Linked DNA regions of Homo sapiens. The protein of the gene in region 3 purifies or fractionates together with the protein of the main gene of each other region. This does not show direct contact. Each region holds a gene or a part of one and is shown on either strand. Other genes may lie near its edges. The genes, in order: SNX25, PRMT2 and GJA3.

The links.
Region 1: the proteins of GJA3 (region 3) and SNX25 purify together in Homo sapiens (affinity purification with mass spectrometry; one large-scale study listed by BioGRID and IntAct). This does not show direct contact.
Region 2: the proteins of GJA3 (region 3) and PRMT2 purify together in Homo sapiens (affinity purification with mass spectrometry; one large-scale study listed by BioGRID and IntAct). This does not show direct contact.

What each region holds. Positions count from the first base shown.
Region 1 is NC_000004.12:185,265,017-185,268,672, reverse strand, and holds part of SNX25 (sorting nexin-25), read right to left. Parts: intron 1,705-3,656; coding exon 1,518-1,704; intron 1-1,517. UniProt on the Homo sapiens protein: May be involved in several stages of intracellular trafficking.
Region 2 is NC_000021.9:46,652,647-46,656,302, reverse strand, and holds part of PRMT2 (protein arginine N-methyltransferase 2), read right to left. Parts: exon of another isoform or gene 3,459-3,656; coding exon of another isoform or gene 3,249-3,458; exon of another isoform or gene 1,206-3,248; intron 1-1,205. UniProt on the Homo sapiens protein: Arginine methyltransferase that methylates the guanidino nitrogens of arginyl residues in proteins such as STAT3, FBL, histone H4. Acts as a coactivator (with NCOA2) of the androgen receptor (AR)-mediated transactivation.
Region 3 is NC_000013.11:20,140,748-20,144,052, forward strand, and holds part of GJA3 (gap junction alpha-3 protein), read right to left. Parts: intron 2,559-3,305; 5' UTR 2,542-2,558; coding exon 1,234-2,541; 3' UTR 1-1,233. UniProt on the Homo sapiens protein: Structural component of lens fiber gap junctions. Gap junctions are dodecameric channels that connect the cytoplasm of adjoining cells. They are formed by the docking of two hexameric hemichannels, one from each cell membrane.

The DNA.
Region 1 (3,656 bases), on a different chromosome or scaffold from region 3:
TCAAAAGCAAATGTCACAAGTTTAAAAACCTCGACTAATTCAAACACCCAATTTCAACCAATATTTTACTTTTCCATCAGGGTTTTACCAAAATTATTAATGAAAAGCAAAATGAACATATAAGAGTTTTCTTTCTTTCCCCTATATTATCATTTGGGAACATTAAAAAGAAGGGTAGAGAAACAGAAGCCTAGAAAATTTACAAACTAGATAATACTATATAATCATACTAAATGTGTATATACTATTAAAAATACACAAAAATACACACCCCCTAAAATATCTCAGGTATAACAAGGGACACTGTGCTCCCCTATAAAAGATACTCCTATGGTATTTTCAAATGTGTTTTCTCAAAATAATTAATCTAGAACCTCTTATTCCCAAACCCAAGCCTCTGTACTGTCCAAGACAAACAAAAACCAACACAATGTTCTACTCTGTAATTTGAAACACATCTTCTCCTTCTGATGTCCTTCCAGTGCTTTTCTAAGGTAGTCATCTGAGCAGCTAAGCAGGTACTCCCGACATCTGAAGAGCTTTCAGTCTATTATAGCCTCATTACAGCTGACTCTTGAAAAACATAGGTTTGAACTGCATGAGTCCACTTACACAGGATTTTGTTCTGCCTCTGCCACCTGAGACAGTAAGACAAACCCCTCCTCATTCTCTTCCTCCTCAGCATACTTCCATGTGAAGAGATGAGGATGAAGACCTTTATGATGATCTACTTCCACTTACTGCATAGTAAATATATTTTCTCTTTCTGGTTTTCATAATATTTTCTTTTCTCCAGCTTACTTTATTGTAAGAATACAGTATATAACACATATAACACACAAGATACGTGCTAATCAACTGTTTATGTTATTAGTAAGGCTTTGGTCAACAGTAAGGTATTTAGTAGTTAAGTATTTGGAGAGTCAATTTTTTTTTTTTTTTTAGAAGGAGTCTCACTCTGTCACCCAGGCTGGAGTGCAGTGGTGTGATCTCAGCTCACTGCAACCTCCACCTCCCAGGTTCAAGTGATTCTCATACCTCAGCCTCCTGAGTAGCTGGGACTACAGGCATGTGCCACCACACCCAGCTGATTTTTGTATTTTTAGTAGAGATGCGGTTTCACCATGTTGGCCGCGCTGGTCTTGAACTCCTGACCTCAAGTGATCCGCCCACCTCAGCCTCCCAAAGTGCTGGGATTACAGCACTTTTGAGCCACTGTGCTTGGCCCAAGTCAAATGTTATATGTGATTTTTGACTGGGGGTGGGGGCGGTGGGGAGCGTGGGTGCCCCAAATTGTTCGAGTCAACTGTATTTGAAAAACCTAATACTTTAAAAAAATTCATTCTAATTACACTGCTAAGGAGACGCTGGATAAATTTAGCTGTCACTAAATAGTAAGATTTATAGACTTGTTTTATTTCTGCTTCCCTGACAACTACTTTTTTTTTTTTTTAACCTAACTAGGCAGGGGATGATAATCAGTAGCTGTTGCTGTGCTATAATTGAAGACCAAATACCTTAGTTGCTTCAAGAACTCCACATCAGAGTTGCTGTTAATGAGCTTGATGAAGTCCTCGTAAGAGGGGGCATAGGTGTAGGCTCTCTTGTGATGCTCATTCATTTGCTCTCTGTACGCCAGCTGGGCAAGCAGCATTTGGTTAATGTAATCTGGATTACTCAGTAACTCCACTACCGGCTTCAAGACTACAGGAAGAAGAAGAAATAGCCACTGAGAAAGGTATTCTTCTTTAAGGGAACTGTTTATGTATCACATAACTGAGACTACATTTGGGAAACATTTTTCAAGTAGTCAAACAGGGGAATATCTATATAATACAATAAACAATTCAAAAATGTACACACATGCACACATACAGCTGCCTATCCCTCCAAATATGTTATCATCCATGGCTATAATCAAGTTGTCATTTTAATAAATAAGTGAAATGTAAAAGAATCATGAAGGGAAGTCATTTGGAACTCAAGTTGCTAACAAATCTATCAAAATTAAGGCCGGGCGTGGTGGCTCACACCTGTAATCCCAGCACTTTGGGAGGCTGAGACAGGTGGATCACTTGAGGTCAGGAGTTTGAGACCAGCCTGGCTAACATGGTGAAACCCCAATCTCTACCAAAAACACAAAAATTAGCCATGCATGGTGGCACATGTCTGTAATCCTAGCTACTCGGGAGACTGAGGCAGGAGAATTGCTTGAACCCGGGAGGCAGAGGTTGCAGTGAGCCGAGATCTCGCCACTGCACTCCAGCCTTGGCGACAGAGTGAGACTCCATCTCAAAAAACAAAAAACCACAAAATTACAACAACCAAAAAAACACTGATTTTTTTCTTTTACTTATTTTATAAGGCTCAATACGTTTTGACAAGCTTAGTCTGCCAAAGGATGAAAGTCAACATTCTCCCCAACTGGTTAAAACAGACCTCAGAGAGGAAGTTAAAAAGTCAATGACACTATTACAAAGCCATCCTTGTAACTTGAGATTAGAAACTTCCTCTCTTCTCTGTGGTTGGTTATAATAGCTGATGGGCACAGCTGGCTTATCCTGAGATAGTAAATGAGATAATCACTGCATCTCAAATGCAATGCTATTTGTCTGAGACTGAGATAGGGAAAGTTTCTCTTATCCTGACTAAGCATTTCCCTGGATATAGTTAACTTTTTTCTAGTAATCACATTATATTGTGGTACAGTTCCTTTTTACATATTCCAAGTTCACAAAATTATGTACAGTCATGCGCCACATAATGACATTTTGGTCAACAACAGACTGACTATATGACAGTGGCCCCCATAAGATTATAATGAAGCTGAAAATTTTCTACCATTTAATGAGGTCAAGCTAGTGTAAAGAAACCTATTGCACTGTCAATAGTATAAAAATACAGCACATACAATTATGTACAGTGCATACTTGATAATGATGATAAATGTTATTACAAAAGAGTCAAAAAGTTTAAAAAAATTAAAAGTTCATAAAGTAAAAAAAGTTATAGTAAGCTAAGGTTAATTTATTGAAGAAAATAAAATTTTAAATAAATGTAGTGTAGCCTAAGCGTACACTGTTTATGAAGTCTGCAGTGGTGCACAGTCATGTCCTAGGCCTTCACAGTCACTCCCCACTCACTCAGAGCAACATCCAGTCCTGCAAGCTCCATTCATGGTAAGTGTCCTATATAGGTGTACTGTTGTTTATCTTTTATACCATATTTTTACTGTACCTTTTCTATACTTAGATACACAAATATCATTGTGTTACTATTGCCTACAGTATTCAGTACAGTAATATGGTATAAGGTTTATAGTCTAGGAGCAATAGGTTACACCATATTGCCCACATGTGTAGTGGGCTATCCCATGTAGGTGTGTAAGTACACTCTATGATATTTGCACAATGACATTGTCTAATGACACATTTCTTCGGACACATCCCTGTTGTTAAGCAATGCATTACTGTATACGCATTATCAACAAATCATATAGCAAAGATATTTTAAGTAAATATGCTAATCAGAATTTGACTGTGGTCAGGGATGGTTGCTCACACCTGTAATCTCAGCACTTTGGGAGGCCTAAGTGGGAGGATCACTTGAACCCAGGAGTTCAAGACTTGCCTGGGCAACATAGTAAGACCCCCATC
Region 2 (3,656 bases), on a different chromosome or scaffold from region 3:
TTCTGCTGGTTGGGAAAGTTCAGGATTGGGCATCCAGTGAGGGCTTCAGGCTATTTCCCCTCACGGTGGAAAGCAAAGGGGAGCTGGCACGTGCAGAGACCACAGGGTGGGAGCAGAGGCAAGTGGGCGTGCCAGGCTCTTTTTCACAACCAGCTCTTGTTGGGACCTGAAAGAGCTAGAACTCACTTATCTACCCACGAGGAAGGGCATTCATCTATTCATGAGGGATCCACACCCATGACCCAAACACCTCCCACTAGGCCCCACCTCCCAACACCACCACACTGAGGATCAAATTTCAACATGAGATTTGGTGGGGACAAACCATAGCACTAGTTCCTTTACATTCCATATACATTTCATAATGAGCTTATCTATAAGAACAAATCCTGCTTGGATTCTAATTGGAATTTTATTAAGTCTACAGATCAATTTAAAAAGAACATACGTCTTTACTAGGTTGAGCCTTCTTATCTCTCCATTTATTTAGGTTTTCTGGGGTTTCTTTCATTATCATCTCATCATTTTCAGCATCCAGATCACATTTTGTTAGATTTCTAAGCCTTTCATATTTTTGAAGCTACTGTGATATTCTTTAATTTCTAATTGTACATTGCTAAGATATAAAAATGACTTCTGTATGATGACCTTGCACTCTGTGATCTTGTTAAACTCACTTACTAGTTTTAGGAAATTTTCTCATAGACTCCTTAGGATTTTCTGTAGGTTTTTTTGTAGATGTCCTATGTCATGTTAAATTTCCTTCCCTTTCTAGTTTGCTGAGAATTTTATCATGAACTGATGTTGAATTTTGTCAATTTTTTTCTGTATTGATATAATCATGATTTTTCTTCTTCAGACTGTTAATATGGTAGATTACACTGATTGATTTTCAAATATTGAACCAGCCTTGCATTCCAAGGATAGTTTCTTTTTTTGTTATGGTGTATTATTATTCCTTTTATATCCTGCTGGTTTAAATTTGCTAATGTTTTCTTGAGGATTTTTACATTTATGTTCATGAGGGTTATTGGTCTGTAGGTTTCATATTTTGTGTTAACATTGGTTTTGGTATTAGGGCAATGCTTACCTCATATAATGAGTGAGGAAGTGTTCCCTCTTCTTTTCTGAAAGTTGTTTAGAACTGGAGTTTTTTCTTCATTAAATGTGTTGATAGAATTCACCAGTGAAATCATTTAGGGTAGAGATTTACCTTTCAGAAGGTTTTTAAACTATTAATTCAATATCTTTACTAGTTATTGGACCATTCAGGTTATCTATTTCATGTTAGATGAACTGTGGTAATTTGCAGTTTTCAAAAGAATTGGTCCATTTCATGGACCTTCTTTGCTTCTCACTCTATGTATGTACACTCTATGTACATACATAGAGGGAGAAGAAAGAAAATGATAACTCAAGACTGTTTCAGGAATACAGTTGTTTCTTGGTGTCTATGGGGAACTTGTTCCAGGACCCCCGTGGATATTCAAATCCTTGGATGCTAAAGTCCCCCATATAAAATAACGTGGTTTTTACATACAGGCTACACACATCCTCCGACAGACTTTAAATCATCTCTAGATTACTTCTACCTAATACAATGTCAGTGTTATGTAAGTAGCTGCTATACTGTATTGGTGTGTTATTTGTATTGATGTTTATTGTTGTATTGTTATTTTTATTTTCTGATATTTTCAATACATGTAGGTTGTATCTACAGATGTGGAGCCCACAGATACTTGACCGTACTTCAAATTCTTGTCTTCTTCACCAGTCGATTGCTACTATGTCTTTGTTCCAGAGTCCTCAAATAGTTTCTCCCTGTCTACTCTCCAGGATTTATAGCTGCATTCAGTGGGAGACATGAAAGGAGTATGCCTTCTCCATCTTATCTGGAACTGAAGCTAGGTTACCACTATGTCTAATTTTTAAACACAAAATTGGAATCATACTGTACATACTCTGTACTTTTTTTAAAAACTAGCAACATGTCACCAACTTTTTCCAAAGACTGTTAAAAATCTTTCTAAAACATAATTTTTAATGATCATATGTATTGCTACAATTCTGTTGTTTCCAATTTTCTCCCCATTTTAAACGGTGCTGCCATGAACATTTTTTAACATAAATTTCTGTACAAATTTGATTATTTCCTTAGGATAATTTCATCAAAAAAATTTGGTGCCTGGTCTCTGGGTCCAGCTGCTGGGAAGGAGGACACTGCAGTCTCAGCACCCACCAGCTCCTCCTCCTTCCTCCTCCCCCGAGGTGAATGTGCCCTCAGAAGTGCAAGCTGCTGATTAACTATGCTGCATTTTTTATGACGTGAAAGTTCGGAAATGCTCCACGCCAAAAAAAAAAAAAAACAAGAAAAGAAAAAAGGCTGTCATTTTTTGTCCCAGTGCAGACAAAGTGCATTGTTGTAGAAGGAGGTGAAGAGACCTTGGTTGGAGATGTCTAAGTGTAGCCATAAGCGGTCCTTCAAGCATGTGGTGGCAATGTTTCCTGAAAAAGATGTCTCTGTACTTTGTATGAGGCAAGCTTTAAAACCAAGGAATCCAGAAGAGTTGATGGTTTTGTGTGTGTGCGTGTGGGCACCAGAACTAGCACCTCTGAAAAGTAAAATGATCTACATGAGCTCCAGGGAATGCAACCAAAAAGAAATATCAAGGCATAAAACATGAACATCAAGCAAAGGGGCCAGAAGTCCTCCCTTAGGCCTGTCCCACTGGGAAGCCAGGCGGCCTTGGTTGTGGCCTCTGCAGGGTGCCCTGTGTAGATCGTCCTTCAGTGCCACAAACTGAAAGTGCCCGTGTTTACGCTTATCCTCTTGTTGTGTAAATAAAGCAAATACATTTAGGCCAGAGTCTTGCTGAGGGGGAGCTGTCCCATCATCTACACCACACATTCTATAAATATGTGCAAACAGCCTTAAATACATCCGAAGTCTGAAGTGTTATTGGTATGAAATTAAATTCTTACTGGCCACGTGCCTGTTTTCATGAGCTGACTTATAAAGACTTTCGTTAAGCTCAGGATTTGTGATAATACAGTCAATAAAACAGTACAAGGCTGTGTGAAGAGAATTATTACATCTTTGTTAACCTCAGCAGTTACTTTGTTTCTTTTGCTTAGAAAATTCGTCATAATGTGGTTGTAATTTTGGTCCAAATTCTTTATTCTTCCTTGAGCTAAAGAGAATAACGGAATATAATATGTCCTCATCACATATTGACAGCACGAATACACTAACAACAGTAAGACTGAGTCTGGCAGTCTTTTAATTCTACCAAATGTGCAATGGAGATCCTCAGTGACCTTGCAAAGCGTCCTGAAAGGTCCAGGAGGCAGCCCCTGCACCTGCAGTGCCACTGGCTAGTGGGAGACTGCTGAGTGTGCAACCTGCTTCTCGGAAATCGTGGCGTGGCCTCAGGAGAACAAGCAAGATCCTGTAACAACTAATGATAACGCAAATTAGGGCTCAATTGTCACCTGCTTTGTTAACAAAAATGATTAAATGGTCTGTTGACAATCTAGGACACCTGTGGTATCTTTACTTGCGTCTCCTTCAGAACTTTGCTGCTTCTGGAAAAACAAAAAAATTTTAATGCTCTTTGACTTATTCTGCCCTATTTTCCTTCAAAAGGCTTTACCAA
Region 3 (3,305 bases):
CAGACACTTATATTATTTACACTGGAGAAAGCAAACAGGCTGCCCACAAAGAATGATTAGGAAGCTTGAAGTGTTTTATTCTGTACTTTTTAAAAGTGTAGATTGTCATAGATTCATCTGTATAAATAATTTTCCTGGCAACAGTAGTTCACTTTTCACTTCCCATTCAAAATCTTCAGAACTTCTATTTGAATGCACTTAAAACTTTCCCCTGCTTTTGTTTTATATAATACATTCTCATTATAATTAGGTGACTCATGAAATTAAAGAATTTCTTTTACAAGAAAGTTCAAAATCTTTAGTAAAGATGCTAGTAGCATGCATTAGGGCAAATTAGCACTGTCTTGGTCAGCAATCATTCTAACAGTATTTAAAGAAAGAAAAACACTATTTTTCTTTCATTTTTCCTGAAAGAAAGTGGGAGAAAATAGGCATAGCTGCACCATTCAAAGCACAAAATAATCATTTAGAAAATAAATACCTACGGCATACCCGACACACTTTTATGTCAATTTCCTCAACTGTTTAAAAATGGCCTCAGGCGTGGCTGCGTTTCCACCTGCCTTCTGCCAGCAACCTCTGGGGCCCTTGCCCACTGAGCCTGCCTCTGGAGGGCAACTGCTCTTTGTCACTTGTCATGAGGCCTGAAGCTTGATATCCTGGGCTTCACATGCAATTTCGGAAACTCAAATGACACTACATAGACTTGCTGTAAATCTTTTTTTAGTGCAGTTTGGCAAATATCCCAAATGAAATTCAACTCTAAGTTAAAAGTATCAAAGAGATAGAGCTAAGTGCTCTGGCCCAGAGCTAAGACCCTCTGGGCCGCCCAGAGGCTCTGGAGAGCTTAGGAATAGCAAACCCAATTGCCCAGGAGCTAAAGGGACTGCAGGATACCTGTTGCTTTACCACTACAGAACAGTTACCCCCAGAGACAGCCCTCAGCGACCAGATTTCTGGGCTGCTGTGAAGATCTTAAAGGCCCACAACCCTTGTCCCCGCCACCCCCAAACTCAGAAAGTGGGAGTTATCCCCACTGTAACTCACAGTGCTAAGAACAGCAAGCATTGAACACGGAAACCTGATCTCTCCTCCATCGTCCACCTCCTGGGACTCCAGTCGCTCCCACCTCCTGGGACTTTCAGGTTCTATCTGCTGGTGGGAAGTGCACTTTGGTTTTGGTTTCTAAGAAAAAGATCACTACACAGCTGTCTGGAGGCAGGCACCCGGGCACTAGATGGCCAAGTCCTCCGGTCTGGCCCGCCCGCTGCTGGCCCTGCTGGCCTTGCTGGCCCGACCTGGGTCTCCGAGGGGCAAGGGCGGCTGGTGCATCTGGGCCGCGGTGGTCACGGCCTGCTCCTCCTCCTCGGGGGTCCCTGCCAGGGCGCTCCCCTCCAGACTGCTGCCGCTCCCATCCAGCAGCAGGGGCGCCGCGCCCGCCTCAGCCTCGTGCGCGAGTGGCGGGGAGCTGCTGCCGACGGGGCTGGGGGCTGCAGGCGTGGACGCTGCCGGGTAAGCCTTGAGCGCCGGGGGCTGCCGCTCGGCCGCCTGGTTGGCCCAGTTCTGCTCAGTCATCAGCAGGTGGTGGTGGCCGTTGTAGAGCTTGGCGGACTGGCCCTTTCCGCGCGCCTCGGTCAGGGCTAGCAGTTTGAAGTCCGCGGCTGGTGGCGGGGCCCCGGGGTAGCCCACGGCGCGGGCCTGTCCCAGGGGCGCAGCGGTGTGCGCATAGTAGGGTGGGAACCCGATGGCAACGGCGGGCGGCCGGGAGCTGGGGGGCAGGGGCGGGGGATCGGCTGTCCCCAGCGGGGCCTCGGAGGCGTCCGGGCCGAGGCGGCTGGTCACGCCCTGCTTGAGCTTCTTCCAGCCCAGGTGGTAGATCTCCAGCATGTTGAGCAGCAGGGACGCGCAGGCCACCGCCAGCATGAAGATGATGAAGATGGTCTTCTCCGTGGGCCTGGAGATGAAGCAGTCCACCGTGTTGGGGCAGGGCCAGCGGTCGCAGCGGTAGAGCGGCTTCAGCTCGAAGCCGTACAGAAAGTACTGGCCGGCGATGAAGCCCACCTCGAACAGCGTCTTGAAGATGATGTTGAAGACGTAGGTCCGCAGCAGCGCCCCGGCCATGCGCACCCTGCCGCGGTCGTCCCGCGACGAGGGATTGTCCTGCGGTGGCTCCTTGGGGCTGGGGCTCTCTCTCTTCAGCTGCTCCTCCTCCTCCCTCTCTTTCTTCTTCTCTTCCATGCGCACGATGTGCAGCACGTGGCCCAGGTAGATGAGGGTGGGCGTGGACACGAAGATGATCTGCAGCGCCCAGAAGCGGATGTGGGAGATGGGGAAGGCCCTGTCGTAGCAGACGTTCTCGCAGCCCGGCTGCTGGGTGTTGCAGGTGAAGTCTGACTGCTCATCGCCCCACACGTCCTCCGCCGCGGCCCCCAGCACCAAGATGCGGAAGATGAACAGCACGGTCAGCCAAACCTTGCCGATGACCGTGGAGTGCTCCTGTGCATTTTCTAAGAGTCTTCCCAGAAAGCTCCAGTCGCCCATTGCTTCAGATTCCTAACCTGTAAGAGGAAAATGCTCATGAACACCGGGCTGCAACGGCTGAGTGCCGGGTCCGCACCCATGGGCGGCGGCAGCGGCCTGGATGGTACTGGGATGGGGCTGATGGGCAGCTTCTCCACAGGACAGGCATCGCAGCTCCCCAGGACCTGGACGAGCAGGCACTACACAAGTGCAAGCGTCCATGAGGAACCACAGGTTAAACTCTTCATTTCAGAGAGGAGGAAGCCAGAGCCAGAAGAGAAAATGCCCTCCTCTGGCCTCCAGACTGCTCAAGCCCTCTCCCTGAGGCTGACCCTACAGGAGCTCTGGGGCTCTGCGGCCCCTTAGGCCACTTCTGAATCATGACCTTTCTGTTCAGGTGGGATTAGAGCAACCTCTTCCCAAATTGCTGCCATCCCCATGCCCATGCCACCTTCAGAACTTCTGCCATGTTAATCTGATACCTCTTCTACTATTTGCTTTTTCTGTCTTCACATCAACTCTTTATGCTTAAATTTATCTCAACTAGGAAAGTTTACATTACTACTGTCAATGGAAAATCGGCACTAATACCTTCAATGGATGGTAGCTTTAAGAGTAAATATATTCCAACTCAGCCAGCTTTATTTTGGAAGTAAGGAAATAAAGACTTACTCCCCTTTTTTAAAAAAGAATAAATTCCTTGATGACAATGAAGTTGATACAGTCTATGGGATATTGCTTGCCAAAAGCTCTGGATGTAAGCTCTCTTGTTACAAAGAGGAAGA